Linked DNA regions of Homo sapiens. The protein of the gene in region 2 purifies or fractionates together with the protein of the main gene of each other region. This does not show direct contact. Each region holds a gene or a part of one and is shown on either strand. Other genes may lie near its edges.

Region 1 (5,958 bases), on a different chromosome or scaffold from region 2:
CAGCTTCAGGGCTGCCTGTGGTCCCAAGGTTCTGGGAGAAACAGGGGACCCCCTCACCTCCTGGGCAGTGACCCCTACTAGGCTCCCATTCCAGGTACTAGCTGTGTGTTCTGCACCCCTGGCACCTTCCTCTCCTCCCACACAGGAAGCTGCCCCACTGGGCAGTGCCCTCAGGCCAGGATCCCCTTAGCAGGGTCCTTCCCACCAGACTCAGGGAAGGGATGCCCCATTAAAGTGACAAAAGGGTGGGGTGTGGGCACCATGGCATGAGGAAGAAACAAGGTCCCTGAGCAGGCACAAGTCCTGACAGTCAAGGGACTGCTTTGGCATCCAGGGCCTCCAGTCACCTCACTGCCATACATTAGAAATGAGACAATCAAAGCCCCCCCAGGGTGGCACACCCATCTGTTTGCTGGGGTGTGGCAGCCACATCCAAGACTGGAGCAGCAGGCTGGCCACGCTCGGGCCAGAGAGAGCTCACAGCTGAAGCTCTTGGAGGGAAGGGCTCTCCTCACCCTGCCAGGAAGCTTCTTAACATGTGACAGGACCAGGGACCAGGAGCATGGTGAAGCCAAGTGGCAGATGGGAGCCAACCTGGATGGGGGTTTGGGGAAGGAGGGCATGTGTAGCAGAGAACTTAGGGGGGCCTCCTTGCCTTTCTCATTCTTTTGCCCTGCATCCTGTCATTTCTGTTCTTGTCCCTCATACATCTTTGGAGAACCGGGCTCCAGACTTTGTTCCCTGACTCATAGCTGCCGCTTGTTAGGTTAGGGTTAGATGGGGAGAGACAGGGCACAGAGGACCTGTCTCCCCGGCTACTCTTGCCTTATGGCTCTAGTGTGTGACCTACAGAGCATGCTCCACAAGCCCCTGCCTCACCTCACTGTCATCACTAATAAACATCATGCACAGTCCCTCCGGCTTCTGTTCTGTCTGTGATGCGGCCCAAAGTCTGGTGGAGGGAAAGATGTGTTTGGGCCGCCCTTCTCTCAGAGGATCTGTCCAGCGGGAAGGGGACAAAGGCAGAGCTGGGGAGGCACTCCACTCCCAGGCATCCCCACTCCTCATGCCCAGGTGTCAAGAGGGAGACATCCAGCAGCACGGAAGGGCTTGTCCTGGGATGTGGGGAAGACGCTTGGTCACGGCTTTACAGTATCCTTGCGCCAGGCCAAAAAGGCCCTAGAAGCAGCTACAACTTGAACTCTATGTACTAGGCCAACTCTTTCTGTGGGGTAAGAAGAGCATGTGAACAAGAGGGGTATGGGGGGAGGACTGCAGCCCTGCGTTCCTCTCACCACAGCCTGATACAGCTGGGTCCACCCGTTCTGCACCATCCCCTCCCAGGAGCAATGGGTCCAACTAGGGAGCCACAAGCAAAGCTCCCGAGACCAGGCGTTGGGCACACAGCGGCAGAGTGGTTCCAACTGCCTCACCTGCCAAAATTTCACAACTGCTTTCCTTTCTCACCTTTGCCTAAAGCTCCCTAGAGGGTGTCCAGGCCAGGGCCACACATTACGCGAGGCTAGAGCAGGGGCGGAAGATGCATTACAGTCCTGCGTGGCTTCTGCATCTCCTCTCAAGTCCACCTACAGACTCAAGACTATCAGCAGAGACCCCTCTACTCTTCTCTTAATGTGGCTGTCTCTCATTTTCCAAGCCAACCCACCCCGCACCCAGTGGTGTCCCTCCTGCCAGGGAGAAGCTGGGAAGTTTAACTAGAACTAGATCTAACAGTCTTAATATTCATGTATTTATTCTCAGAACATACAAACTTATCTTCTCAGAGAATAGAAAACAGAGATTTCACTCAGTGACAAAGATGGACACAGCCAGTTCACCGTGTCCCCCCATCTACTTAGAAAATCCCCTGGGGGAGGGGATGCCTAGAGCATACAGCACCCCTTGGTGCGGGGCTGTGCACAGGTCTAAAGACTCTCAACTTCCTTTACCATCCAAACAGGAAAACAGCTGTCCAGATGACAGTAAGATTCCACTGTCTGTAATCCTCATGGTGCCAGGTCTCCTGGGGCATCTAGGGCAATGATGCTACTGCAGTTTATGCAGTTACACAGTCAAGTCTGTGCCAAAGGAGGTCCCATCCGGCGGCCAGGTTTCTGTTCAGTCTGGGGAGCAATGCCAACTGGCTGCCCCCATAGCCTGGCATGAGCTGATGGCCCAGTGCAATCCCAAAGCAAAGAAGGGCAGAACTGGGCCAAGAAGCTGTGGTAATTTGCTCTCCCTGCCTCCGACAGCGTCGTCCTCTCCTTTTGCAGCCCCACACGCAGGCCTCCTGACCTGAGGGTCTGGGCTAGGGAGTTGGATTGTTTTCCTAAGCCCCCATATCCCAAGAGTGAGGACCTGGAAAGAGGGATGTGAGGGTTCTGAAAAACAGGCATCAGGCAGCTTTGGAGATGCCCTCAGCCCACAGGAAGAGTGCTGTGTCAGGCAAAGATGGTCTCTTCCCGGCGCTTCTTGGTGAGGATGGTGCCTGGCTTATGCTGGGCATCTGGGTGGTTGGCTAGTTCGGGGGGACAGGAAGACACTGGGCTTTCCAGGATAGCTTGCTTCAGCTCGTAGAACACAGCAGAGTCCTCTTTTGTGAGGAAGGTGATGGCCACCCCACTCTTGCCTGCTCGTCCCGTGCGGCCAATGCGGTGGATGTAATCTGGGGAATGGGAAGAACGTCACTCAGCATAGCCCAGATGCCCTGGGGAGCCGTGTCTGATGCCTCCACTTCTAGAGGCATCCTTCCCACCCCATCTCCAAAGGCAGGAATACAGCACATGCTGCCTGAACCTGAGGCGCCCACAGTGCCCTCTCCAGGTGCCCATCTCCCCTGTCCTCCTACTGACTGTGGTCCCTACCACACTAAGACCCACAGCTGCCTAGCTTCATTCTTCACACTCCTGAGGACACAAGTGTCATCCCAGCTGCTGGGACAACAAACCCAGGTAAGATAAAGGACAGGAGTGCTTCTCATGGGAGCAAGCAATCCCAGACTTGGAACTGAGGGAGGCAGTAACAGCCTTCCATGGACAGCACCCTGACTTCCAGTGGGACACCATAAGGAATCTGACTTCACCCTGGATTGAAGCTGCTTTCCCTGGAACTTACCTTCAATATTTTTGGCCATATCATAGTTGACAACCATAGACACATCTTGGATGTCAATACCACGACCAGCCACATCTGTAGCCACCAAAATATCCTTGGCCCCAGCCTTGAGGTTGGACAACGCAAACTCTCGCTGCTCCTGGCCTTTTCCACCGTGCAGTGTGCAAGCATTGTACTGTTGGAAGAATGGTGAAGTGAAGAGTGAGCAATGCAATCAAGGAGAGACACAGGAGTTCAGAGGAATGGGACACAGATGAAGGGAGGGTTGGAGAGAGCAGCAGAGTACGAGAAAGGAAAGGAAACAAGAGAATGATTGCAGTGAAAGAAGGAGAGAACAAGTGAGCTGAAGAGAGGGATGAGAGAAAAAGGTGTGGTGTGGCAGGGACACACAGAGTAAGGTCAAAGGCAAAACAGCTGGGAGAGCGGTGGAGCCAGACAGATGAAAAGTCCTCAAAGAGAATTAGGGGCGAGATCAGGGTAGAAAGCAGGGATCAAGAAGTTTAAGGAAGTTGGAGAGCTGAGTGACAGGGACACACCCCTCCCCTCAAGCACCAGTGACAGGAGTAAAGGACACTGATTATCAGCTCCCTTCTGACCATATCACCTCCTCTCAACGTACCTAAGCAGTTTTCACCTACTCTTTTCTACATCCTCAGACTGCCAGGATATGGGTCTCAAACCTTTCCCTGGCTCCACCTCACCAGGATGAAGACCCAAGGCAGCTTTGGCTGGCATTACTGCAGCAGACAGGGGGTCCCAGCAATTGATTCCATTCTCTTTATTCCCTCAAACCACCCTTCACCCTGGTCCTAACTTGTTGATTGCTGGACAGGCTAAAGAAAGGGTGAGACTTGAAAGGAAGAGCCTAGGGGGCCCTGCTAGATTCAGAAAGCAGTGCCACAGAGGCTAGACTTTGTTCTCCCCTGCCAGACACACCCCCATCTTCTCCAGGGATTTGGCCAACACGTCGCAGCCCTTCTTCTGGTTGACAAAAATAATGATGGGTGGGTCAAAGCCTTGCTCCAAGATTGCCAGCAGCTTTTTCCTGGAAGGAAGAGGAGAAAAACAAGATGCATAATACCTCCCACTCCAAGTGAAATGCCCAACCCTCATCTATGAACACTACTTTCAGGGTCTTTAATGCCCATGACATTCTGCCCAAGAAAACAGCAGCTCTTCAACACAGCAGAGCAATTGCCCTGCCCTGCACCTGCACTAAAAAAGTTCTCAGAGCCATTTTATTCTCCACCCTGTTTCCCCTGGCTCAGCTGCCCTCATACCTCTTTTCTGACTCTGACATGAGGAAGACCTTCTGTTCCACACGCTCATGGGGCTTGCCTGCGGAGCCAATGTACACCACAGCAGGTCGCCGAAGATAGCTCCTGGCCAGACGCTCCACCGCTGGGGGCATGGTGGCCGTGAACATGACTGTCTACGAAAACAGGAGGCTCAGCCCTGCACCCAGGCAGGAATAATCATATATCCCACTGTCACCGAAGGCAGGTCAGCCCAGACTAAAGAATCTAAAATGGGCCACAGTATAGGCTTTGATAGCCACCACCTTAGAAAATAGTGTCCTCTGAATTCCCATCCTTCCTGAGTACCTGCTCATCAAGGCACTTTCCATCTTATGATGACAGGAAGGATTGAGAGCATTTGCTAGCACCTGTGGTCCCGGTAGCAGCATGAGTCTTTGGAATCGTTTTTCCAGGGCTAAGCTAAATGGCTCCACCCTTAGGACTGTCAGAGGACTGTACCTAGGCACACTTCATTCTAGAAACATGTACTCTGAGCCCACCTAAGGCAAGAAAGGCCCAAAAGGAGGTTGGCAACCTTGTACAACTTTTCTTTTTTTTTGAGACAGGGCCTCACTCTGTTGCCCAGGATGGAATGGAGTAGTGGCACGACCTCAGCTCACTGCGACCACTGCCTCCCAGGCTTAAGAGGTCCTCCCACCTCAGCCTCCTGAGTGGCTGGCACCACAGGTGTGCACCACCAATGCCCAGCTAATTTTTTAAATTTTTGTAGAGACGGAGTTTCGCCATGTTGCCCAGGCTGGTCTCAAACTCCTGAGCTCAAGTGATCCACCCGCCTTGGCCTGTCCAACTTTTCCCAGCCCAGGGAAGCAGCCTTACTTGGCGGTACTTATGTTTTCCCGACTCAAAGTTGGCCAGCATCTTCTCAGGGTCCTCAGCCTCATCCGTGTCTGGCTTCTGGTTGCTGACAGGCATGTGCTCCAGGATCTTCTGGACATCTGGCTCAAAGCCCATGTCAATCATCCTATCTGCCTCATCCAGAACCACATAGGTACAGCGGCTCAGCACCAGGTAGCGGTTCTCCAGCACATCAATCAAACGCCCAGGGGTAGCAATCACAATCTGAGGAGTACAGTATAATCATTTATAGCCCAGCAGGTGCCCCTTCTTTTCTTTCCTGTGAACTATCCACCCACTTGGGTGACAGACCTCCAATGCTGAGGAACTTGGACCCCAACCTCTGGTTATGTTTAGCAGTAAAGGCTCCTGCAAACTGGCATGAAATCACTTGTTGCCTGGATTTTCTCAGGAATGAATGAGGTCTCTGAGTAAGGTGCAAGGATTAGACAGAGGAGGCAAAATCAGTAGAAACTTTTTTTTTTTTGGCAAATCATTTCAGATCCTGAAGAAGGAACTTCTTAGATGGGAGAGACTAAGGGGTACTATGAAGGGGGTTGTATAAAGACTAAATTTTTTTAAAAAATTGTAAAAAGACTAAATTTCTACAGCAGACTTCTCATAAAGAGCTCTCCTCCACTTTCCTGAGATGAAGGCAATGCACAAAGTCAAAGATTTGGTCTGGCAGAGT
Region 2 (6,504 bases):
CCATCTCTGCTAAAAATAAAAAAATTAGCTGGGCATGGTGGCGCATGCCTGTAATCCCAGCTACTCTGGAGGCTGAGGCATGAGAATTGCTTGAACCCAGGAGGCAGAGGCTGCAGTGAACCGAGATCATGCCATTGCACTCCAGCCTGGGCAACAGAGCGAGACTCCGTCTCAAAAAAAAAGAAAAAGAGAAAGAAAAGGTTTGGCATTGCAACTATTTCTCTTGAACTGAGTGACCCAGAATCAGTTGTCCTTTGAATTTTAGTATAGTAGCATAGTCTGAGCTCAGAAGGGCCTTATGATAGACCCTGTATGTTCTGGGAGGCAAGAATTGAGTTGGTATTAATATCTTAATGCTTTTGTTTTACTGCTGAATAACAGATGACCCTTCAGGTCTTTTCATGTTTTCCTTTTTCATGTCTCCCTGCCTAGGATCCTAGGTGCCTAATTGCCTACTTAAACTAGTTTAGGGAATCTTGGACTGAAGCCAAAACATGTAAAATGCCCTGAAGGTTAGGCAAAGGGAAGAAGTTGGGTAGTATGAAAGATTAGGTCACATCTTGTTTATCTCTTGAGTTCTATAAATTGAGAATGTAAATTTAATACTATGTCTATTTTTAAAATGTATTTTATTGCCATGAAAAAGTAGCATGAGACATTGGAATATGGAATATCAGCTTCTTCATTTGGGTCATGGGGATCATGCTTGAAGACCTAATGCTCTCTCTAGGTCTATCTCAGCATTGAGCCCCTGGATGCTGTTGCGTGGCTTAGATGACTTATACATGCTTTGTGGCATGATTCATACTACCTTCTACCTTCTGTGATACCCTTGGGTAGTTATAATAGGACCCAGGTTAGAGTGCTTCTTGGTGGAGCCACTGTAGAACTGGGATTTAGATGCAGCCAGGGCTGATGCTCAGCTGGTGAACACTGGTGTGCTTGTTCCTACTGGTGATTTACAACCAGTGTTTCTTCTTTTTGGGCCTGCATCCATTTTGATTGGGTGGTGTCCATGCTGTATCTGTAATAAAATATTTTTGAATGTTACCGCTGGATGCAGCGTGAGAAAGATACCTCCTGAAACTTACTGTAAGAAATTTACAGTGCATTGATTTTTCTGATATATAGGAATCGTCATGTTGACCTTGGAATTCTTAAGTTCCCTGGCTGTAGGAAATGGAAATTTTTGTAGTATGTCACCATTGTTAGCTTATTTGGTATTGCGGATTTTCCCTGTTGCAGGACTGGGTGAAAGCTTTTTCTGCAGCAGTCATGTTGAAAACCTTGTGTTGACTTTCCTCGTGTTCTGAAATGGGAGCATAAAAGTTTACTCCGCCACTTCGTCTTAAAATAGCAAAACTTTGCTGTTTTCTGCAGATCTAGGACCTTGTTACAGAACTCTGCCAAAAAAAAAATGTTTACAGAAGAATGTGCTGTGATTAGAGAAGAATATGCTGGTGTGTAGATTTCAAACTCTCTGGACAATATGAATAACACTGTCTTTGTTTCTACAGTGGGAGCCAAGAAGAAAGGTTTGCTCCCGGGTGGAACAGGGATTATCCTCCTCCTCCCCTTAAGAGTCATGCTCAAGAGAGACACTCTGGCAACTTTCCTGGCAGAGATTCACTTCCCTTTGATTTCCAGGGGCATTCGGGGCCTCCTTTTGCAAATGTAGAGGAGCATTCTTTCAGCTATGGAGCTAGAGACGGACCGCATGGTGACTATCGAGGAGGGGAGGGACCTGGACATGATTTCAGGGGGGGAGATTTTTCGTCTTCTGATTTCCAGAGCAGAGATTCATCACAGTTGGACTTCAGGGGTAGGGACATACATTCTGGGGATTTTCGGGATAGAGAAGGACCACCTATGGACTATAGGGGTGGAGATGGTACTTCTATGGATTATAGAGGTAGGGAGGCACCTCATATGAACTACAGAGACAGGGATGCTCACGCTGTTGACTTCAGAGGTAGGGATGCTCCTCCATCTGACTTCAGGGGCCGGGGCACTTATGATTTAGATTTTAGAGGCCGGGATGGATCCCATGCAGATTTTAGGGGAAGGGATTTATCAGATTTGGATTTTAGGGCCAGAGAACAGTCCCGTTCTGATTTTAGGAATAGAGATGTATCTGATTTGGACTTTAGAGACAAAGACGGAACACAAGTAGACTTTAGAGGCCGAGGTTCAGGTACTACTGATCTAGACTTTAGGGACAGGGATACGCCACATTCAGATTTCAGAGGTAGACACCGATCTAGGACTGATCAGGATTTTAGGGGCAGAGAGATGGGATCTTGTATGGAATTTAAAGATAGGGAGATGCCCCCTGTGGATCCAAATATTTTGGATTACATTCAGCCCTCTACACAAGATAGAGAACATTCTGGTATGAATGTGAACAGGAGAGAAGAATCCACACATGACCATACGATAGAAAGGCCTGCTTTTGGCATTCAGAAGGGAGAATTTGAGCATTCAGAAACAAGAGAAGGAGAAACACAAGGTGTAGCCTTTGAACATGAGTCTCCAGCAGACTTTCAGAACAGCCAAAGTCCAGTTCAAGACCAAGATAAGTCACAGCTTTCTGGACGTGAAGAGCAGAGTTCAGATGCTGGTCTGTTTAAAGAAGAAGGCGGTCTGGACTTTCTTGGGCGGCAAGACACCGATTACAGAAGCATGGAGTACCGTGATGTGGATCATAGGCTGCCAGGAAGCCAGATGTTTGGCTATGGCCAGAGCAAGTCTTTTCCAGAGGGCAAAACTGCCCGAGATGCCCAACGGGACCTTCAGGTATGTTGATGGGGTGGATTGCTTTTTTTTTTTTTTTTTTTTTTTTTTTTGAGACGGAGTCTCGCTCTGTTGCCCAGCCTGGAGTGCAGTGGTGCGATCTCTGCTCATGCAAGCTCCGCCTCCTGGGTTCATGCCATTCTCCTGCCTCAGCCTCCTGAGTAGCTGGGACTGACTACAGGCGCCCACCACCACGCCTGGTGTGAGCCACCGCGCCCGGCCTGCTTTTTTTTTTTTTCTTTAAATAAGACTTTTGTGAAGGATGACATTTATTTATTTATTTATTTATTTATTTTTGAAACGGAGTCTTGCTCTGTCACCCAGGCTAGAGTGCAGTGACATAATCTCAGCTCACTGCAACCTCCGCCTCCCAGGGTCAAGCAATTTTCCTGCCTCAACCTCCTGAGTAGCAGGGATTGCAGGCATGTGCCACCATGCCCAGTTAATTTTTGTATTTTTAGTGCAGATGGGGTTTCACCATGTTGGCCAGGCTGGTCTCGAACTCCTGACCTCGTGATCCGCCCACCTCGGCCTCCCAAAGTGCTGGAATTACAGGCATGAGCCACCGTGCCTGGCCAGTTTTTTTTTTTTTTTTTCATTTTATTTTTATCTTTGCATAACCATTAGAAAGCAAAATTTGTATTCAGGAGTGGAATGTAGGAATGTAAATCTCTAGAGAAAAGGTCCTCAGCTCAGATCATATATATGTGTGTGTGTGTGTATATATATATATGAATATATATGTATATATATGAATATATATTTATATATATATATTTCTTTTTTCTTTTATTCTTTTCTTCCTGCTTCACTTTCCATTTGTGTATATATGTGTGTGTATATATGAAGGAACTATATATATATATATTTGAGACACGGTCTTGCTCTGTCACTCGGGCTGAAGTGCGGTGGTGTAATTATGGCTCCTTGCAGCCTTGACCTCCCAGGCTCAAGCGATCCTCCCACCTCAGCCTTCTGAGTAGCTGGAACTACAGATGTGCGCCAGCCACTATGCCTGGCTAGTTTTTTTTTTTTTCCTTTGAGAATGAGTCTTGCTCTGTCGCTCAGGCTGAAGTGCAGTTGTGCGATCTCAGCTCACTGCAACCTCTACCTCCTGGGTTCAAGGGGTTCCCCCGCCTCAGCCTTCCAGGAAGCTGGGACTACAGGTATATTTCACCATTCCTAGTTAGTTGTGTTTTTTTTTTTCTTTTTTGAGATGGAGCCTCACCGTGTTGCCTAGGCTGGAGTGCAGTGGCACGATCTTGGCTCACAGCAACCTCCGCCTCCCGTGTTCAAGCAGTCTTCCTGCCTCAGCCTCCTGAGTAGTTGGGACTGTAGTTGTGCACCACCAAATCTGACTAATTTTTGTATTTTTTGTAGAGATGAAGTTTAGGCATGTTACCTAGGCTGGGCTGGAACCCCTGATCTCAAATGATCCACCCTTCTCAGCTTCCCAAAGAGCTGGGATTTCAGGCATGCACCACCATGCCTGGCCAGCAATTTTTGTATTTTTTTGTAGACAGAAGGTTGCAACATATTTCCCAGGCTGGTTTCAAATTCCTGGGTTCAAGCAGTCCCCCCACCTTAGCTTCCCAAAGTGCTGGGATTACAGCAATGAGCCACTGCCCCTACCCTTTTGATGTGTGTTTATTCATTATTTTGTTTTATGATGCTGATTTACATGCCTTGGGATAATTTAGTTTGAAAGTATATGTCTTTGGGAGTTGACTCTTGCAACTCTCGCTTAGTTAGACCTGTGATTGTTTAGGGATCATTTTCTTATTTAAATTCATTGAGAGAATACTTAGGAGTCTCCCTAGTTGTGAAGAGCTGATATTAATGTTGCAACTATCCTCTTGCAGCTAACGTAATTAACTTAAATGTTAAACTTCTTGAATATATGATTTAAGCAAGGAGGGTTATATTTGTAATTTTACAATGAAGGTATTCTCTTTTAAAGTAGATTTGGCTGGGTACAGTGGCCTATGCTTGTAATTTCAGTGCTTTAGGAGGCTGAGGTGGGAGGATCACTTGAGGCCAGGAACTTGAGACCAGTGTGGTGCAACCTCAGGAGAGAATGTGAGGGTGGGGAAGAAAAATAAGGCCAGGCACAGTGGCTCATGCCTGTAATCCCAACACTTTGGGAGGCAAAGGTGGGCAGATCATTTGAGGTCAGGATTTCAAGACCAGCCTGGTCAACATGGTGAAACCCCATCTCTACTAAAAATAACAAAAATTAGGCCAGGCGTGGTGGTTCTTGCCTGTAATCCCAACACTTTGGGAAGCTGAGGCAGGTGGATCATTTGAGGTCGTGGGTTTGAGACCAGCCTGACCAACACGGAGAAACCCCATTTCTACTAAAAATACAAAATTAGCTGGGCGTAGTGATGCATGTGTGTAATCCCAGCTACTCGGGAGGCTGAGGCAGGAGAATCCCTTGAACCTGGGAGGCAGAGGTTGCGGGGAGGCAGAGGTTGCACTATTACACTCCAGCCTGGGCAGCAAGAGCGAAACTCCATCTGAAAAAAAAAAAAAAAACGAAAACCAAAACCAGCCAGGTGTGGAGGTGGGCGCCTGTAATCCCAACTACTTGGGAGGCTGAGGCAGGAGAATTGCTTGAACCTGGGGGGCGGAGGCTGCAGTGGGCTGAGATTGTGCCACTGCACTCCAGCCTGGGCGACAGAGCGACACTCTGTCTCAAAAAAAAAAAGACATTATCTAGTCATCTTCTCTCACCAGAGGTATGAAGTACTGCTAGTTTACAGCCCATTCTCCAGCTCTCAGACCAGGGAAATTTTTCTTTTTTTTTGAGACGGGGGTCTCGCTCTGTCACCCAGGCTGGAGTGCAGTGGCACAATCTTGGCTCACTGAAACCTCTGCCTCCCAGGTTCAAGTGATTCTTCCGCCTCAGCCTCCTGAGTAGCTGGGACCACAGGCGTGCACAGCACAGTTGGCTAATTTTTGTATTTTTAGTAGAGACGGTTTTACCATGTTGGCTAGGCTGAGAAAATTACTGTTTTGAGACTATGTTAGTGTGTCTTTCTGGTTATTAAAGTCTTACTCAGTCTTGTCTCTCGTAATGTTTTGCTTTACTTTGAAGACTCTTTCAGTGAGACTTGGTCTTAGCACATTTACATTCTTATGATTTGAAGTCACATTCTGGCACTCAGAACAATAGAGAAAATTGTAATTTTTTATATCTTCACGTGACATGTCATTATCATTTTTGATCCTGAGTGGCTAAATTTCATGTTGATTTGTGTTTTGTGCAGTAAAGTATATTTGTGAAATAATTTTTCATTCTCAATTTAAGGATCAAGATTATAGGACCGGCCCAAGTGAGGAGAAACCCAGCAGGCTTATTCGATTAAGTGGGGTACCTGAAGATGCCACAAAAGAAGAGGTAAGGCATGTCTTCTCTCCTGTTTCTCTGTGTCAATTAAAAATTAAAAAAACCTTTTAATTTGAAAAATTGTAGATTCACAAGAAGGTGCAAAGAAATGCACAGAGAAGTCTTGTGTATTTTTTTCCCATCTTCCCTCAGTGTTAATATTTTGCACAACTGTGGTATAGTATCTAAACCAGGAAATTGACCCTGGTATAATACATAAAGTTTATTCAGATTTCACCATTTATACATGCACTCACTGAGGTGAGGTTAAAAAAAATTATGACAAATGATTGCTCTCTTTAGACCTGATCACATCCTTT
Region 3 (6,504 bases), on a different chromosome or scaffold from region 2:
CAATGGTATCATAAAATCTGTCAGTTATTATTAAAAACAAGAATGGAACCATATTTTATCTTTAAAGCTATTTAAAAATAACGTAGGGCCAGGCGTGGTGGCTCATTCCTGTAATCCCAGCACTTTGGGAGGCAGAGGCAGGTGGATCACTTAAAGTCAGGAGTTCAAGACCAACCAGCCTGGCCAAAATGGTGAAACCCCATCTCTACTAAAAATATAAAAAAATTAGCCAGGTGTGGTGGCCGGCATCTGTAATCCCAGCTACTCGGGAGGCTGAGGCAAAACAATCACTTGAACCCAGGAAGTGGAGGCTGCAGTGCGCCGAGATCATACCACTGCACTCCAGCCTGGGTGACAGAGGGAGACTCCATCTCAAAAATAAAAAATAGCTGGGCGCGGTGGCTCACACCTGTAATCCCAGCACTTTGGGAGGCTGAAGTGAGCAGATCACCTGAGGTCAGGAGTTTGAGACCAACCTGGCCAACATGGTAAAACCCTGTCTCTACTAAAAATACAAAAATTTAGCTAGACGTGATGGCAGGCGCCTGTAATCCCAGCTACTTGGGAGGCTGAGGAAGGAGAATCACTTGAACCCGGGAGGCGGAGGTTGCAGTGAACCAAAGATCGCACCACTGCACTCCAGGCTGGGTGACAGCACGAGACTCCATCTCAAAAATAAAAAAATAAAAAATAAAATAAAATAAAATAACTTAGGGCCAGGCACAGTGGCTCACGCCTGTAATCCCAGCACTATGGGAGGCCAAGGCGGGTGGGATTACCTGAGGTCAAGAGTTCGAGACCAGCCTGGCCAACATGGTGAAACCCTGTCTCTATTAAAAATACAAAAATTAGCCGAGCATGATGGCAGGTGCCTGTAACTCCAGCTACTCAGGAGGCTGAGGCAGGAGAATTGCTTGAATCCAGGAGGCAGAGGTTGCAGTGAACCAACATTGCACTACTGCTCTCTAGCCTGGGCGACAGGGTGAAACTTCCATCTCAAAAAACAAAAACAAAACAACAAAAATAGGTAATTCCACCCCACAGCCCAATTTTCTATAATGAGCACAAAGGAAAACCCATGTTATGTTTTATGCAGAAATTCAACATAACAGACCTGAGACAGCTATCTGTAGAAAGCCCTGCTGACCCTTATCTGGAGTCCAAGAACTTGGATTTCAGGAGGGTTGACATTCCCTTACTGATAAGAATGGCTCGATGTGCCTAAACCAGCTACGCTGAACACCTGCTTTCCTTCTAGGAGCCTGGAATTTGGTATGTGCTAGGCAGATGGTACCAATGTGACCAGAAGCTTCCAGAATCACAGGTAAATGTGTGTTAGCACTCCAGGCAACCTTATATCTGCTGCACAAAAACTAAATCCAGTCAGCTTCTCCTGAAGTCTTACCCCATTCCCTGCTCACCCAGGGCTCATTCTTAAATGACAGTATCACTGACCTCAATCTGCCAGAACTCTTTAAGTTTTACTCCTCTGTCAACAAATGACAACTTAAATATATTTTATTATTTACCTTCCCATCTGGAGTTTTATTTTCAACCCATATCTCCTCCGTAGGAGGTAGTGCTGGAGTACCAGGAGCAGTCACAGGAGGCATTCCTGGTGGAAACATCATACCCGGAGGAGGAGGCATGGAACTCATGGGAGGAGGCATGAAAGGTGGTCTCTGTTAATTCACAAAAACAGTAATGGTCACTTTAATTACTTTTCCTCCAAATTATTACTGAATTCTATTCAAAAGTAAAACACTGTAAGAGAAACTAGTTTTATAGTCTATTCAAACACATTCACCTGTCATAGAAGCAAAATGTCTGCAACAAAAATTACCAAACAAACTAGAAAGAAACACATCAAACTACTAATAGTGGTCAACTCTGGGTTATAACACTGTCAGTGAATTCTGCTTTCTCCTTTCTACATGATCTGATTTTCACACACAGGGCGCTGGATTACTTTTTTTAAAAAATTGATTTTTATATCCTGTTTTAATACCAGGCACATCACTGTCTCCACAGCTTCTTGAAGAATCCTTCAAGAAAAAGTTTTCACTGTGCATAAAAATGAGTTTCAAAATTAAAAATTTGACATTATGACATTATAAAAACATTTTGAGCAGGGATTTAAAAGATTTCCTCTATAAGCTGTAAGTAACATTAAAATTCAATTATCAAAAGCAGCTTAATCTGGATAATGGAACTCAAACTATGCTAATAGTGTGAAGTTGTACTTTATTTTCCTAAAAATGTCTTTCCCATACTCCAATCTTTGCTGGATTCAGTTGAGTATCTTTCAAGCGTCAGCACACCAGATCTAGGTTATATAAAATATCTATCCCAAATACGTTTCATGAGCCCTTGGCTGAAAATCACTTGGACTTAATATAAAGCCAAACAATTATCCAAGACCAAGAAAGGCATGACAACATTAGAAAGTATCTTAGCACAACATTTGATATATTTCAATGAGAGGGTTACATTAGTCCATTACATTTTATAATACTCCAAAGTAGGTTTAACTCTTAAAGTCACAAATTAGAACAAATTCACGTTAAAGATTATACCAGAATAAGTTAAAAAAACTATTTCTTATTCTAACCTTGAAGCAAATATAAAACCATTTAACAGTGTGTTTAAAGGAAGGAGAGGCTATTCGTTATTAGGAAGGCCATAAAATTATTAAGCAAAGTATTAAAACCTGTCTCTTCCATAACCACAACCCTACCTAAACAGAATTAACATCACTTAAATGGCACATCATTGTCTTCTTCCATTTTTAGTATAATTCATTCTTCACTGTCTAAGCTAATGGAAGGCAGATGATACCACTATATTTATTTGGTTTCAGAATTATACAGACTAAACTAAGAAAACATAGATACATACTCAAAAAGAATACAATCCCAAAATGAGACATTTGAGAGTTCATACCTTCATGACCTCACCTCAGACAGTAAGTCTGGATACACTGGAGAAGGATCTATGCCCCAGGTTAAAATACCATAAATGTTTTTATTTAAAGAAATCCCATAATAAATCGTTTTCAAAAAGAGTAAGATAACCCTATTTTCCCCCCAGGGGAGAAAAAAAATTCAACTATGTGCTTATAAAATGTGTTTGCTGTCACTTTCCAGATTCTATCCTAGGCACCATTTCCAGGAGGAAGACTTACTCAGGAACATATACACATATATTTTTAGACTTGCTGGCAACATATATCATTGAAAATAAATTTTCTCCACTCAAAAATATCTTAAAATTTCAAACTTCATTTCCCATAAAGAAGATGCATTACTAAAGCCAATTCACAGAGCTAAAGGTAGGTAAAAACTATTGAATCCTGGTTTTATACACATACTTCTCTATCACCATCTAAAGTCCTATTCTGAATTTCCATAGTAATTACTGCTACCACTAATTCAGAAGAAACATATTAATATATGGATCTTCTCTTTAGCTCCCATTTTCCTATAAACTGAAACTATTTAAGAATGTAAGTTTTTAACTCAAAACCCATATATAATATTGATAATGATGCCAACAAAGAAATGGCAACCTCTACATTCTTTACCTGGAGGTGTGGAGGGCCCATAGGTGGAGGTATCCCTCCTGGAGGAGGCATTGGCGGCATATTAGGATCAAAAGGAGGACGTCCAAAGGGCGGCCGTGGTGGTGGAGGAGGGCCTCGCATCATACCAAAAGGTGGAGGAGGTCGCATCAGAGGTGGTGGGCCTCGCATCACTGCATTTGGTGGGGGAGCCGGACCTCGGAACCTCAAGGCCTGCTGTTGGGCCATCCTGCATGGGAAAGCAAGGAATAAATTTTTCTTTCTTAAAATTACAAAAATGTAGCTACTGATCTCTAATTACATCCATCAAATTTAAAAGGTTCTTAAGTCTAAGTGGAGTTGGAAAGTCATCATTTTGCAACCGTCATGATAAAAACTACATCAATGGGCCGGGTGCAGTGGCTCACATCTGTAATCCCAGCACTTTGGGAGGTCAAGGCAGGTGGATCACCTGAGGTCAGGAGTTTGAGACCAACCTCGACAACATGGTGAAACCCCATCTCTACTAAAAATACAAAAATCAGCCAGGTATGGAGGCGCACGCCTGTAAGTCCTGCTATTGGGGAGGCTGAGGCAGGAGAATCACTTGAACCCGCAAGGCAGAGGTTGCAATGAGCCAAGATCAAGCCACTGCACTCCTGCCTGGGCAACAGAGCAAGGCTCCATCTCAAAAAACAAACAAACAAACAAACAACCAAAAAAACAAAAAAAAAAACTTACATCAATGGATGATCTAGTTTTGGATGAATGATCAATGGATGCCGAGTCTAGGCAAAAATTTAGACAAGAGGGTTATCTGATGGTCTTAAAGTATTTACCCACATGCTGCTTAAAGTTGCAAGAAAGGATGAAAAAAAAAACACTCTACATAATCTACGTAATAAGGAAATTAGGCAATACCTTGACCCCGTGATCAAAACTAATTATCATCTAAGAAGGACAGATAGATAATGTGTGACTGAGAGAGACACGACATCACCTATTCCGACCAAAAATGTATAACCTCAATCTAACAACGAGGAAAGTATCAGACAAACTCAGAATAAGGAAGGAATGTTCTTTCTTTTCTTTTCTTTTTTTTTTTTGAGACCAAGTCTCACTCTCTTGCCAGGCTGGAGTACAGTGGCATGATCTCGGCTCACTGCAACCTCCGCCTCCCGGGTTCAGGCGATTCTTCTCCCAAGTAGCTGGGACTACAGGCATGCGCCACCATGCCCGGCTAATTTTTTTTTTTTTTTTTTTTTTTTGTATTTGAGTAGAGATGGGGTTTCACCATGTTGGCAATGGTCTTGATCTCCTGACCGCATGATCTGCCCTCCTCGGCCTCCCAAAGTGCTAGGATTATAGGCATGAGCCACAGCGCCTGGCCGGAAGGAATGTTCTATTAAAAGGGGGATGTGTATTCTTCAGATATGTCAATGTTATCCATAAAAGACAAAGAAATGTTGTGGAAATGCTCCAGATTAAAAAAGGTTAAAGAGTCATAACAACACAATTTTTTTTTTTTTTTTTAGAGACAGGGTTTTGCCATGTTGGCAAGGCTGGTCTTGAACTCCTGACCTCAGGCGATCTGCACACCTCAGCCTCCCAAAGTACTGGGATTACATGCGTGAGCCACCACGCTCGGCCAATAACAACACAATTTTAACTCTAGATTGGATTCTGTACTAACAGGAGGAAATGCCATACAGGGCATTGCCAGATCAACTGACAACACTGGAATATGCACAACAGATTAAAGTATTATATCATTACAAATTTATGAAGTTGATAATTAGGCTGTAGTTAAGTAAAATAATATCTCTATTCTTAGAAAATACTGAAGTATTGAAGGGTAAAAAGCCATAGGTATACCTTACCCTCACAGTTCAGAATAACAAAGAGGATGCACGTGTGCACGCAAATAGTAAAGCAGAAGAGGTAAAATATTAACATTGAATAACACCCTAGCTTTATTTTTGCGACATTTTGTAAATTTGAAATTACTTCCAAAGTTTTTAAAGGGGGCAGGGGGGTCACTTGGCAGATCATTAGTAGTCTCTACCTAAAGGGAAAGCCTTTCCCTGTAGGGCACACTGCCCCACCACCCCTCACTCTCAACACCCTAATGTATTTTCTCCACAGCATTTAAGCAAATAAGTAATATCACATGAGATAGTATTATCTATCTCTTCCCCCAAGTGCTTTTGTAAAGAGAATTATTAACTCCTAAAAGTGCTTACTATGAGCCAGGCAGTGCTTGCTCTAAGCTCTTTTCAAAAATTAAGTCTTTTAATCATCAAAACAACCCAATGAGATGGATACTATTAATCTCAGTTTATAGATAAAGAACTAAAGCAAAGAAGTCACTTGTCCAAGGCCACACAACTGGTTCAGTACTAAAGCCAGGATTCAGGTGGCCCACGGTGGCTCGCGCCTGTAATCCCAGCACTTTGGTGGCCAAGGCAGGCAGATCATTTGAAGTCAGGAGTTCAACATCAACCTGGACAACATGGTGAAACCCCATCTCTACTAAAAATACAAAAAAATTAGCCGGGCATGGTGGTGCACGCCTGTAATCTCAGCTACTTGGGAGGCGGAAGCAGAAGAATTGCTTGAGCCTGGGAAGTGGAGGTTGCAGTGAGCCGAGATTGTGCCACTGCACTCCAGCCTGGGCAATAGAGCAAAACTCTGTCTCAATAATAAATAAATAAAGAAAATAAAGAGAGGATTCAAACACAGGCAAATGCTCCTTCAGAGTAGGAATTGTGTTCACTCTTGTATCCCTAGCACATAGATCTGTACATAGTAGGGCTCAATAAATATTAGTATTAGTATTTGTTGCATGAACCACTGAATACCTAGGTGATACAGTACCCAAACTACCTTACAAGTAGCGTATGCAGGATCTTAAAAAAATTATTTTTACAATTCCACCCATTTAC
Region 4 (4,925 bases), on a different chromosome or scaffold from region 2:
ATTCTAACAAATCAAACCTGGAGTCATCTGAATCCATGCTGTCCCCAAATTACAAATGGGTTCGGAACACTTTCTGAGAGCAGAAACTGTTAAGAGTTTGTCAAATGCCTAGGCCAGCTCACACAACTGGTACAACCCAGCTGCAATGTGGCAGTGCCCAAGTTTCTGGTCCTAGGAGTAAAGGACCTGCACTGCAGGAGAGAAGAGAATAATGTTTCCTCCCCTGCTCCTGAGCACAGAGAGCTAGTCCTAAATAAACTTTTAAAACAGGACACATTTTGACTTTGGCATTTTCTTCCATTTCTTTTTGTACCTCAGGCTTTCTGTGCTCAGGACTTTGTCCAAGCCTGCTGCCCTACCTCTCAAGCACTTTATTTTGCTGGTAATATGTGATTGTCAGATAAAACTTTAACCTTCCCAGAGACATTTGCTTTTTTTTTTTTTTTTTTTTTTTCTTTTTTCTGAGATGGAGTCACACTCTATCACCCAGGCTGGAGTGCAGTGGCGCAGTCTCAGCTCACTGCAACCTCTGCGTCTCCGGTTCAAACAGTTCTCCTGCCTCAGCCTCCCAAGCAGCTGGGATTAGAGGCATGTGCCACCATGCCTGGCTAATTTTTGTATTTTTAGTAGGGACGGGGTTTCACCATGTTGGTCAGGCTGGTCTTGACTCCTGGCCTCAAGTGATCCGCCCACCTCGGCCTCCAGAGTGCTGGGATTCATAGGCGTGAGCCACCGCCCTGCATTCTTAAGAGAATGTGAGTAAATATGTTGAGTGGCAATGGTCAAGTTCAATGAAAACTTTTACGCTCTGCGGGTAAATAAAATTTTCAGTTGTGTGGCTACCATCCTTTCTGGGAGTCTGTCCCTATAGTCAGTTCTGATAAGCCTCACTTCACATAGCATTTTTCCTTTGCTTCTGAACATACCAGTTGTTTAAGTTCCAAATGTTTACGTCCAATAATACATGGTTTGAGAAATAAAATATAAGCTCATTTTCCTCAAGGAAGTTAGAAGTAGCCAAAGTTACTCCTCTGGGTTTGAAGCTTACCTGAACAACTTCCCTTCCAGGAGAGCCTTGAGGGAGGGAGCACTGTAGGAAGCCTTAGATAAGGATCTCAGCCACTTTTCAAATTTGGTGGATTATGCTACCAAAGAGAAACCAATCTGTGGTTCCTGTGAAAATTCCTCCCTTAGCGTAGTGCTGGCTGAAAATTAAGCAAAAGTTCCCCCTTCCCACTTAATTTCCTCTTTGTCCTCGTTCTCTTCTTCTGTTCTTTTCTCCCTCCCTTGACTTAACCTTGAATTTTGTTCAATGCAGAATGCCTGGTTTCGGAAATCTCGATTCAAAGGAGGGAAAGGAAAAAAGCTGAACATTGGTGGAGGAGGCCTAGGCTACAGGGAGCGGCCTGGCCTGGGCTCTGAGAACATGGTGAGTCTAGACTACTACAGTAGTGCCTTTATAGTTGGTCTCATGTCCTGAAAGTCATTAGGAATATTCTCATCTACCCAGGAAAGCCTCAGTGAGTTTAAAGCCCTGTCTAGAAGGGAATTTGTATTTAATCTGATTTGAGTCAATGCAGTGCTCATTCTTATGGTAACTTTCTATTGAAGAAGCATCTTTGTGTACTTGGTTGACTAGGCTTGCTCAGGAAATTATTCTAGATTAGCAGTGATCTCACACTGTGGTCCCTGGACCAGCAGCACATGCAAACTCATCCCCAACCCCAGACCTTGTGAATCAGAAACTCTGGAGTTGGGGCCCAGCAGTCTGGTTTTATAAGCCCTTCAACACTGGCCTAAAGCCTGCTGCTAGGTAAATGTTGCCAAAGGGTCACTGTAAAGTCTAGCCATATCTTGTCATTAAACTCAGGAACGGATCAGGAATTTCCAAGTCGGGAGCTAGTTTTTCTCACAAACCAGGTAACAAATGTACCCTTTTGGTGGCCTTTCTTAACTGCCTGTTTTCTGTCACCTTGATTCCAAGCCAGGGAAGAAAGCTGCCAGTATACTTTTCTGGAGCATTAAACTTGGCATCTTTGTAATTACATACTCTGTTCCCACATTATAATAATAATGATGATGATGCATAATAATAGGTAATATTTATTGAGCACTTTATATGTGCCAGGACCATTCCAAGCAATCAGATGTTTTGGCTCAGTTAATCTTCAAAATAACTGAATGGAAGTTAGTACAGATAACAATGCTGAGGCACCTAAGGTTACAGTGACAAGTGTTCAAGCCGAAATTCAGACCCTTCATGGTCTTGATTCAGGGCCTGAGCAGTCACACAATATGCTATTCAGGGCCTTTTCATCTTTAACGTAATTTTTACTTAATTAATTGGAAGTGTTTATGTAAATACATGATCAACTTTGGGCATAATCTGATTGCATTTCTGTTTAATAGGGTTAATTTCCAGAAATAGAATTTCTGGGTTGAGGGCATAAGCATTTTTAAATGATTGTCACTGTGTCTTTTCTCACAAAGCAGTAGCAGCTTTCTAAAAGTATCCAGTTCCTTTGTAGCTCCCACTTCAAGGGTTTTCATAATGAGGCCTAGTCTATAGCAGTGAGCTTTCCTGCTTATTTTTTCATTCTCATAGATGTGTTTATTTTTTTAGGATCGAGGAAATAACAATGTAATGAGCAATTATGAGGCCTACAAGCCTTCCACAGGAGCTATGGGAGATCGACTAACGGCAATGAAAGCAGCTTTCCAGGTCTGAAATAAGCATTTCATTAAAAGCACTTTCAGCAGTAACTCTTGGGCAGTGACAGAGGGGCTTAGTTTTCCTGGTTGTAGCTGGGCGCCTAGGCTTGATGCTAGATTTAGGGTCTTCACGCTGCTTGGATTTTGAATATAAACCTAACAGTAGCTTAGTTGGAAATGCAAGTTGATCTAGAGAACCCCTTGTGCTGGTCTACTTTGAGTCACACTTGGGGCCTGGGATTGTTGTCCTGCAGCAGGGTGTGTGTTCCCTCCCTTCCCAACAGCCTGAAGTGTTGCCCACCTCCCAGGCACCCACCTCCAACTCACTTCTGAAGCAAAATTTACTGATAGTCACACTAAGGTGAATCGATAGAATGAGTTCAAGGCAGGTTTTGCTGTCAAACTTAAATTGCAGTATGAAAATTTTTTTTAAGTTTTCAGAACTTTTTGGTTTTGAATGCAGATAAATGTGCTAAATACATAGATGCTTTATTCTAGCCAATCAGGCTATAAAAGTACATTTCAGAACACTGGGGGTCCATCTCTCCACAGAGATCCACAAGTTTTCCTTTATAGCACAAGAACAAAAGGGACCATACTGTGGGGCCATCAGGACACTAAACTCACAGTGCCAGGATAGCACAGAGTTTCTGTAAACCTCATCATTTGCCAAGTTGTATATTCAAGTTTCTTGAACTTGCTATCTTACCTACTCCTGATGTCTCTTTCTCTTTCAGTCACAGTACAAGAGTCACTTTGTTGCAGCCAGTTTAAGTAATCAGAAGGCTGGAAGTTCTGCTGCTGGGGCAAGTGGGTGGACTAGTGCAGGGAGCTTGAATTCTGTTCCAACTAACTCAGCACAACAGGGCCATAACAGTCCTGACAGCCCCGTCACCAGTGCCGCCAAGGGCATCCCAGGCTTTGGCAATACTGGCAACATCAGTGGTGCCCCTGTGACCTACCCGTCTGCCGGAGCCCAAGGAGTCAACAACACAGCTTCAGGGAATAACAGCCGAGAAGGGACTGGGGGCAGCAACGGGAAAAGAGAGAGATATACTGAGAACCGGGGCAGCAGCCGTCACAGTCACGGAGAGACTGGCAATCGGCATAGCGATAGTCCACGTCACGGAGATGGTGGTCGCCATGGAGATGGATACCGCCATCCAGAAAGCAGCAGCCGTCATACTGATGGCCATCGGCACGGGGAGAACAGACATGGAGGAAGCGCAGGCCGGCATGGGGAGAACCGGGGTGCAAATGATGGTCGGAATGGGGAAAGCAGGAAAGAAGCTTTTAATCGTGAGAGCAAGATGGAGCCCAAGATGGAACCCAAAGTGGACAGCAGCAAGATGGACAAGGTGGACAGCAAGACAGATAAGACAGCTGACGGCTTTGCTGTCCCAGAGCCGCCTAAACGCAAGAAAAGTCGATGGGACAGTTAGAGGGGATGTGCTAAAGCGTGAAATCAGTTGTCCTTAATTTTTAGAAAGATTTTGGTAACTAGGTGTCTCAGGGCTGGGTTGGGGTCCAAAGTGTAAGGACCCCCTGCCCTTAGTGGAGAGCTGGAGCTTGGAGACATTACCCCTTCATCAGAAGGAATTTTCGGATGTTTTCTTGGGAAGCTGTTTTGGTCCTTGGAAGCAGTGAGAGCTGGGAAGCTTCTTTTGGCTCTAGGTGAGTTGTCATGTGGGTAAGTTGAGGTTATCTTGGGATAAAGGGTCTTCTAGGGCACAAAACTCACTCTAGGTTTATATTGTATGTAGCTTATATTTTTTACTAAGGTGTCACCTTATAAGCATCTATAAATTGACTTCTTTTTCTTAGTTGTATGGCCAGGCAGTCCCCATTTTAGGAGTTGGCTTCTGCAAATTCAATCCATTGAGCTAACTGTTGGGGAGCAATTTGGTAGTTGTAGACATTTGCAGGGAAGGGAGATGTCTGATTCTAAATGGGAGTTGATGCTCAGGTCCCCAGCCAGGTTTGCATCCAGCCCTGAGACATGTAGGAAACACCTTTCAGACCCAGGCTCTGAAGATTCCCAGAAGCCACAAGGATTGAAGGGAAAAGGTGATCCTGGTAACTGTTCCAGGATTGCTCCAGGTTTGAGATGGTATTGCTAAATTTAAAATTAAACAAGAAACCCAACAACAGCTTTTAAAGTGTCTTCTATCTCATTGTATTTTTTTTAACTTGCCCCAATGATAGAAAAGTCT
Region 5 (6,504 bases), on a different chromosome or scaffold from region 2:
TCCTAAAGAACTTTTCAGTATGTAGTCCACTGATAATAACAAACCAATAGATGCACATGTAACTAATCACAGGAACCAACAATGCCTGAAGAGGCAGGCTCATATGCAGCAAACACATTTTCAAAGTTTCCGTTCATTTTGTTTAATTTTAACAAGTCAACAAGTGTGTGCAGTACTGGCTGGATGCAGTACGTATACAACAGGAATCATCCATCTAGCTATTTGGAATCCATGAACTGTTCCCTAATGAAGTATAACAATGATCAGGGTGGTATACCATCAGGTGAGAAACAAACTGCAGAGAAATTCTAAAGATAATGCGTCAGAAATATGCAATGCTGCGGAAGAAACCAAACCACAAATTTATTCCATTTAAGAGTTTTGGATTGGAAGTCTCTTCCTCCCCTAAGAATAGCAATTTGGTTTATTTGGTCACCTCTTATAAATAAGCATATGTTACCTTTAGGATGTGCAGGTACCACTGAAGACTTAACAAAAACTACCCATAGACACTGGGGACTCTTCCCAAGTTAACACCTGCTGTGAGGCTTTGCCTAAACAGTTAAGAGCCTTCCTCTCTGACATATCTGTTTAGACAATTTGATTATTTTAGGCATTTTCAAAATTCACTGTCAATTATACACATCATTTTTCTTATTCTCCACAAAACCCTCTTTGGAGATAATAATTTGAACTATCACTTTAGGAATGAGTCCACCTAGTCTTATGTAACAGTGATAAATTAATATTCTTTCAATCGACAAACACTTTTGAGCCAGGCACTCAGTAGCTGTGGAGAGTACCTGAGGCACAGTAAGGCAGGCATTGCTAGTGATAAACACACAAGGTATAAGACAATTTCATAAGGATGAGGAAAACTTGAGAAATGAGAAAGTGGTAAGTGCCACCTTCTCATTTGGATAGTGGTAAGTGCCGTGAAATAAAAACCACGAGAATGCAAAAGAGGAGACCAGGGAGGGGAAGAGCTTCCCAGCCAGGGGGACTTTAAGCCACGGCAACCTTGGGGAAAAAGTGGTTCAAGCAAGTGAGACAGTAAAGTGTGAAGGTCCTGACAGGAAAGGGAAAGACAGGACCAAGAGGCCTGCTGTGGTTAAAGCAGAGGGGAGGCATGGCCACACAGGAGAGTATGAGCCAGACCAAGGAGGTCTTTTAGGCCCTGGGAAGGAGTTTGGAATAGGCACTCACTGGGAGATTTTAAGCAGATTAGACTTGGACAATTATTTTAAAGATCACTGGCTGATGCATGGAGCACTGACCACAACTAGAGAGATTAGTTAAGAGGTCACAGTAATTAACAACTCTGGTCACAGGGTCACACTAGTCACAAATACTGAGTGCTAACCACATGCCCTGTAGGGTTCAAAGTGCACTGTCTTATTTAATCCTCAGAATAACCCTGTGAAATGGGTACTGTTACTATTTAACAGATGAGGAAAGGGAACTGGCGGTTTAATAATTAAATTAGCCTTAGTTGCCTAGTAAGTAAGTGGTAGAGGGAATCGAACCTATGCATTCTGACCAGAGGCCTCTTGCCTTTAAACCACTACTCTTCAATTCCTATTTAAAGCCATGAGACTGCGGTGTCACCCAGAAGGTTCTAGATAAAGAGGCTAAGACCAATTCCTGATGTTACTCCAAAATTTGAGTTAGGCAGAGGATGAGGAGGCTGAAATGGAATGTGAGGTGGAGTGGGCAACGAGGGCAAAGGGCAAACAGAAGAACCATGGATTTGGATTCTCATGGACGCCAAGAGAAGAAAACATTAAGGGGAACAGGATAGGTTAACAGCTGCTGTGAGATACTGTGCTTTGAAGGGTAGAGAGAACAGAACTAATAGTTGGAGAGAAATGGGGATCAGGGGGAGTTTTTTTTTTCTTATATTTTGAAACAAGGGTGATTCCAAGTCATGCTTAGTTAACAGGAATAATCCTTGAAATCAGGATGTGTACTAACAAGAACTTGGAACATAAACTCACCTAAGAGAAAAAGCACTATTCTATCTACTGCCTCTCTTAAGAGGCTTTCTAGTATACACACAATTCCTAAGGAAGAAACAAATTGAAGAAAATTAAAAGGAGCTAATGAGGAGCATACTTACTTATATTCATTTTCCACCATATTTTCAGGGTCTGCCTGTTCAATGGCTTCTTCAAAGAATTCCTCCAAAGTGGGCATGTGTTCCCTGAGCGGTACAAAAATAACCAGTGAGGATGGCATATATTCTTAATAATAAATACTCATGAAGTGGTGGCAGGACAAGATTGTGGGCATGTGTTCCCTGAGCAGTACAAAAATAACCAGTGAGGATGGCATATACTCTTAATAATAAATACTCATAAAGTGGTGGCAGGACAAGATTGTGGGCATGTGTTCCCTGAGCGGTACAAAATAACCAGTGAGGATGGCATATACTCTTAATAATAAATACTCATAAAGTGGTGGCAGGACAAGATTGTGGGCATGTGTTCCCTGAGCGGTACAAAATAACCAGTGAGGATGGCATATACTCTTAATAATAAATACTCATAAAGTGGTGGCAGGACAAGATTGTGGGCATGTGTTCCCTGAGCGGTACAAAATAACCAGTGAGGATGGCATATACTCTTAATAATAAATACTCATAAAGTGGTGGCAGGACAAGATTGTGGGCATGTGTTCCCTGAGCGGTACAAAATAACCAGTGAGGATGGCATATACTCTTAATAATAAATACTCATAAAGTGGTGGCAGGACAAGATTCTAATGGCCCCATACTTTTAGTTACAGTTTTGATTACGTGGGAACTCCAGACTTTTAAGGAAGTAAAACCGTCAAAACTAAATTCAAAAAGGACAATAAATAAAGGGGATAGTCTAATACTAAATATTACATAGTATTTACTACATATAATATTATATACTTTAATTACACACTATAATATATAAATATGTTGCTATTCAAAGAGGGCAGCCAGGGTATTTTATAGCATTTGAATTTTACCAGCAAATAAACTTTTACATTAAGTCCCTATCCACGAATTATTTTTTCTTTAAACCAGAATTAAACCAAAACTAATAATCAGACCATAATACGATTTCAAGGGTTTAACCTTTAGCTCTTATTTAAATTGTTACCATGGTAGCATGGTTGATTTTTAAAATGCATCTTTCTTGAATTTGTTTTTAGAAATAAAATTTTGATACAGGGTCAAGCAAAGAAATGAGGTCTCAGGATCAGAAGACATCTTCTAGAGTAAAACTAGGAAAATGGGCTCTTTTAAGAAAACTATCCCAATATCCATTCATTTTCTAATGCTACAGATACTATATTCCATTTTATGAACATGCCCCAAGTTATCCATGTCCTACACAGAGATATTTGTCTTCCCACTCTTTGCTCTGACAATGTTAAATGAACATTCTTGCACCTGTCTCCTTGTAGATGAACTGATTTCTTTAGGCACTGGGCCTTCAAACTTCCACTGCAACCCACAATAAGAAATTCATTTTACACTGCAACCCAGTACACACATATATGCAAGTATATGTACAGATATATATAAGTAAAGCTAATGCTTCACAAAAGTATATTTCCTATTTCATTTAAAAAATGCTAGTTGAAATTACTAAATTGACTTTACAAACCACCAATGATTCTCAAACTTAGTTTTTAAAAACACTATTCTGATCAACACACCTACTAGTGGGGCACAGACATCTTTAACATTCAGATAGAGTGACTGTGCCATCAGACTCCTACCAGCAGCACTGGCAAATTATTTTTATCCATAATTCTTATAAAATCTGGGTATTTTTAAATTACTGAATCTCTTAGCTGGAAACTGCTTGCTGTAGTTTTTAACTGTACTTCCAGTTACTAGTGAAGTTCCCCGTCTTCTCAGAGGTTTATTAAGGTTTCTACTTCTGAATCTGACTATTCATTTGTACATTTTTCTACTGGGTTGATTCACTCTCACAGATTTGGCAGGAATCAATCATGTTAGAATTTTATCTATTTTTCCTGGTTTTTGTTTTTATTGATCTTCTCTTTTGATTTTGTTATCTTCTCTATTGTTTGTTGTCTATTTTACTGATTTCTAATCTTATTTTACTTTCTACTTCTATGAGTTTACTTTTCTTCTGAATGACTCTCAGTGTCAGACTCTTATTAGCTTGGTTTTTAGATTTCATTCTTTTTGAAAGTGTAAACACTTAAGGCTATACATTTCTCTTCTGTGTTCTACTGAGTTAGATCTCAAAAGTCTGAACATGTAGTGTTTTCATTATTATTTAGCTCTACATTTTCCAATTTCCATTATGACTTCTTTGATTCAAGGGTTATTTAGAAGTGTGTTTAAAGGAGTTGTAAGTATTTTTGCTTTTGCTATTCACACATAATTTACAAAAACTTGTGGTTTCTGTAAGACCAAGCCTGTTAATTATTTTGTTAAATTCTAAATGTATTACACTAAGTTTTTTCCACCAAATTTATTAAATTCTGAGAAAGGTCTGTCAAAATCCTACTAGATGGTAGGTTTTCTGGGTGGTGGTGGATGGTGAAAACTGACCCTGGGTCAACTTCTCATTCTAATTTTGTCAAATTTTTGAGAACACATTCTTAGAAAATAAAGTTTAAAATGTGTATATTTCTATTTTTTCCTTTTATCTTTATGCAATGATTGCCTTTATTTTTAATAATGCTTTCTGCTTTTAAGCCTTTTCTGCCTGATATCAATATAACTATGCCTTTTAAAAATTACGTCTTTTAAAAGTTCTTTCAGTTTCAACCTTTCCATATCTTTATTTTTAAGGTATATTTCTTATAAACATATAGATGGATCTTTTTTTTTTTTTTTTTTTTGAGACGGAGTCTCGCTCTGTCGCCCAGGCTGGAGTGCAGTGGTGCGATCTCGACTCACTGCAAGCTCCGCCTCCCAGGTTCACGCCATTCTCCTGCCTCAGCCTCCCAAGTAGCTGAGACTACAGGCGCCTGCCACCACACTTGGCTAATTTTTTGTATTTTTAGTAGAGACGGGGTTTCACCGTGTTAGCCACGATGGTCTCTATCTCCTGACCTCATGATCCGCCCGCCTTGGCCTCCCAAAGTGCTGGGATTACAGGTATGAGCCACCGCGCCTGGCCGATAGATCTTTAAAATATAACACCAATTTCTGTCTTTGAGCCAGAAAGTCCATTTCCATTTATATTTGAATTTAACCATACTGTTTTGTACTTTCTGTTGTGTTTTCTGTGCTTTTTTCCTCCTCTCCTACCTTCTAATTTACTTGCTTAAATTTTCTGTATTTACTTTTACCCCTCAATTTATTTAAAAATTACATATTCCATTTCTTTCACATACTTTACAAGCATGTTTGACTTAAACCATAACATTCTTTAATTCTGACCACCCCTTCTTGTCTTACATGTCACTTTTATCAAGTTTACCTTTTAAAATAACCCTAAATAATAATTATTACTATTTTATAACAGTGAATTCTTGATAAGATTTATTCAGATTTCTTCATGTTTACCAAAGTGTCTACACAGTAATCCTTTCTGCAATTTACTCCTTTCTGGGTTCAGTTTCCTTAAGACAGCTTTTTTACTGGGGACTGTTGATAATTTCTCATAGTTTTAGTCAATCACTCAACCACAACTGTTTAACTTGTTACAGAATTTTTTAGTTGAAATGTTGAAAAAGCAAGTAATACTTCTAGAAATGAGAAAATATAGTCATTGAATTTACAAAACGAGCAGGTTTAACAGCAGTCTGGACATAGGGAAAGTAAGAATTACTGGATTAATGATTAAGAAATCACCCAGAAAGCAATACAGAAGGAGCAAGAGTTGGAAACGATGAGTTAATGATAGTTGAGGAGGTCCAGCAAACATCTAATGGCAGAAAGAAATAATAGAGAATGTGAAAGACATTTTCAAGCACTCATCCCACTGTCTTCTGATTTTTGTTGTTCTTGAAGTCAACTGTTAGTTTAACTTTGCTCCTTTGTAGGTTGTCTGTTTTTTCTCTCTGGTGACTTTATTATCATGTACAGAGATATGGATTTATTTGGTTTATCCTCCTTAAGTATTATACTTCTTGAACCTATGAATTCATGCCTATTCTTAATAATTAACTCAATTATTGCCTCTTTCCCATTCTCTATTATTTCTTTCTGCCATCAGATGTTTGCTGGACCTCCTCAACTATCATTAAGTCATCGTTTCTAACTCTGCTCCTTCTGTATTGCTTTCTGGGTGATTTCTTAATCATTAATTAACCCATTAATTCTTACTTTACCTATGTCTAGACTGCTATTAAACTTGCCCATTTTGCAAGTTCAACGAACTTTTGTGACTATTAAAACCCAAGTTCCCTGGTTCTCAAAGCTGGCAATCATTAGTACTGCTGCCCTAGAACCGTATCAGTTCATAGGCTTACTCTTCTGTTTGTAGTTTTGATTCCTTTTGTGAATCTTTATTTTTTTGTGATTTCTAAAATTATTTT

The links.
Region 1: the proteins of RBM6 (region 2) and DDX23 purify together in Homo sapiens (affinity purification with mass spectrometry; one large-scale study listed by BioGRID and IntAct). This does not show direct contact.
Region 3: the proteins of RBM6 (region 2) and TCERG1 purify together in Homo sapiens (affinity purification with mass spectrometry; one large-scale study listed by BioGRID and IntAct). This does not show direct contact.
Region 4: the proteins of RBM6 (region 2) and DDX42 purify together in Homo sapiens (affinity purification with mass spectrometry; one large-scale study listed by BioGRID and IntAct). This does not show direct contact.
Region 5: the proteins of RBM6 (region 2) and THOC1 purify together in Homo sapiens (affinity purification with mass spectrometry; one large-scale study listed by BioGRID and IntAct). This does not show direct contact.

The regions. Positions count from the first base shown.
Region 1 is NC_000012.12:48,828,028-48,833,985, forward strand, and holds the end of DDX23 (probable ATP-dependent RNA helicase DDX23), read right to left. Parts: intron 5,493-5,958; coding exon 5,250-5,492; intron 4,547-5,249; coding exon 4,395-4,546; intron 4,160-4,394; coding exon 4,051-4,159; intron 3,290-4,050; coding exon 3,115-3,289; intron 2,666-3,114; coding exon 2,442-2,665; 3' UTR 1,729-2,441; downstream 1-1,728. UniProt on the Homo sapiens protein: Involved in pre-mRNA splicing and its phosphorylated form (by SRPK2) is required for spliceosomal B complex formation.
Region 2 is NC_000003.12:49,965,953-49,972,456, forward strand, and holds part of RBM6 (RNA-binding protein 6), read left to right. Parts: intron 1-1,245; exon of another isoform or gene 1,246-1,517; coding exon 1,518-2,796; intron 2,797-6,106; coding exon 6,107-6,196; intron 6,197-6,504. UniProt on the Homo sapiens protein: Specifically binds poly(G) RNA homopolymers in vitro.
Region 3 is NC_000005.10:146,452,361-146,458,864, reverse strand, and holds part of TCERG1 (transcription elongation regulator 1), read right to left. Parts: intron 4,348-6,504; exon of another isoform or gene 4,303-4,347; coding exon of another isoform or gene 4,301-4,302; intron 3,810-4,300; coding exon 3,584-3,809; intron 1,683-3,583; coding exon 1,530-1,682; intron 1-1,529. UniProt on the Homo sapiens protein: Transcription factor that binds RNA polymerase II and inhibits the elongation of transcripts from target promoters. Regulates transcription elongation in a TATA box-dependent manner.
Region 4 is NC_000017.11:63,814,245-63,819,169, forward strand, and holds part of DDX42 (ATP-dependent RNA helicase DDX42), read left to right. Parts: intron 1-1,318; coding exon 1,319-1,429; intron 1,430-2,623; coding exon 2,624-2,722; intron 2,723-3,449; coding exon 3,450-4,154; 3' UTR 4,155-4,925. UniProt on the Homo sapiens protein: ATP-dependent RNA helicase that binds to partially double-stranded RNAs (dsRNAs) in order to unwind RNA secondary structures. Unwinding is promoted in the presence of single-strand binding proteins.
Region 5 is NC_000018.10:216,767-223,270, forward strand, and holds part of THOC1 (THO complex subunit 1), read right to left. Parts: intron 2,204-6,504; coding exon 2,120-2,203; intron 1-2,119. UniProt on the Homo sapiens protein: Component of the THO subcomplex of the TREX complex which is thought to couple mRNA transcription, processing and nuclear export, and which specifically associates with spliced mRNA and not with unspliced pre-mRNA.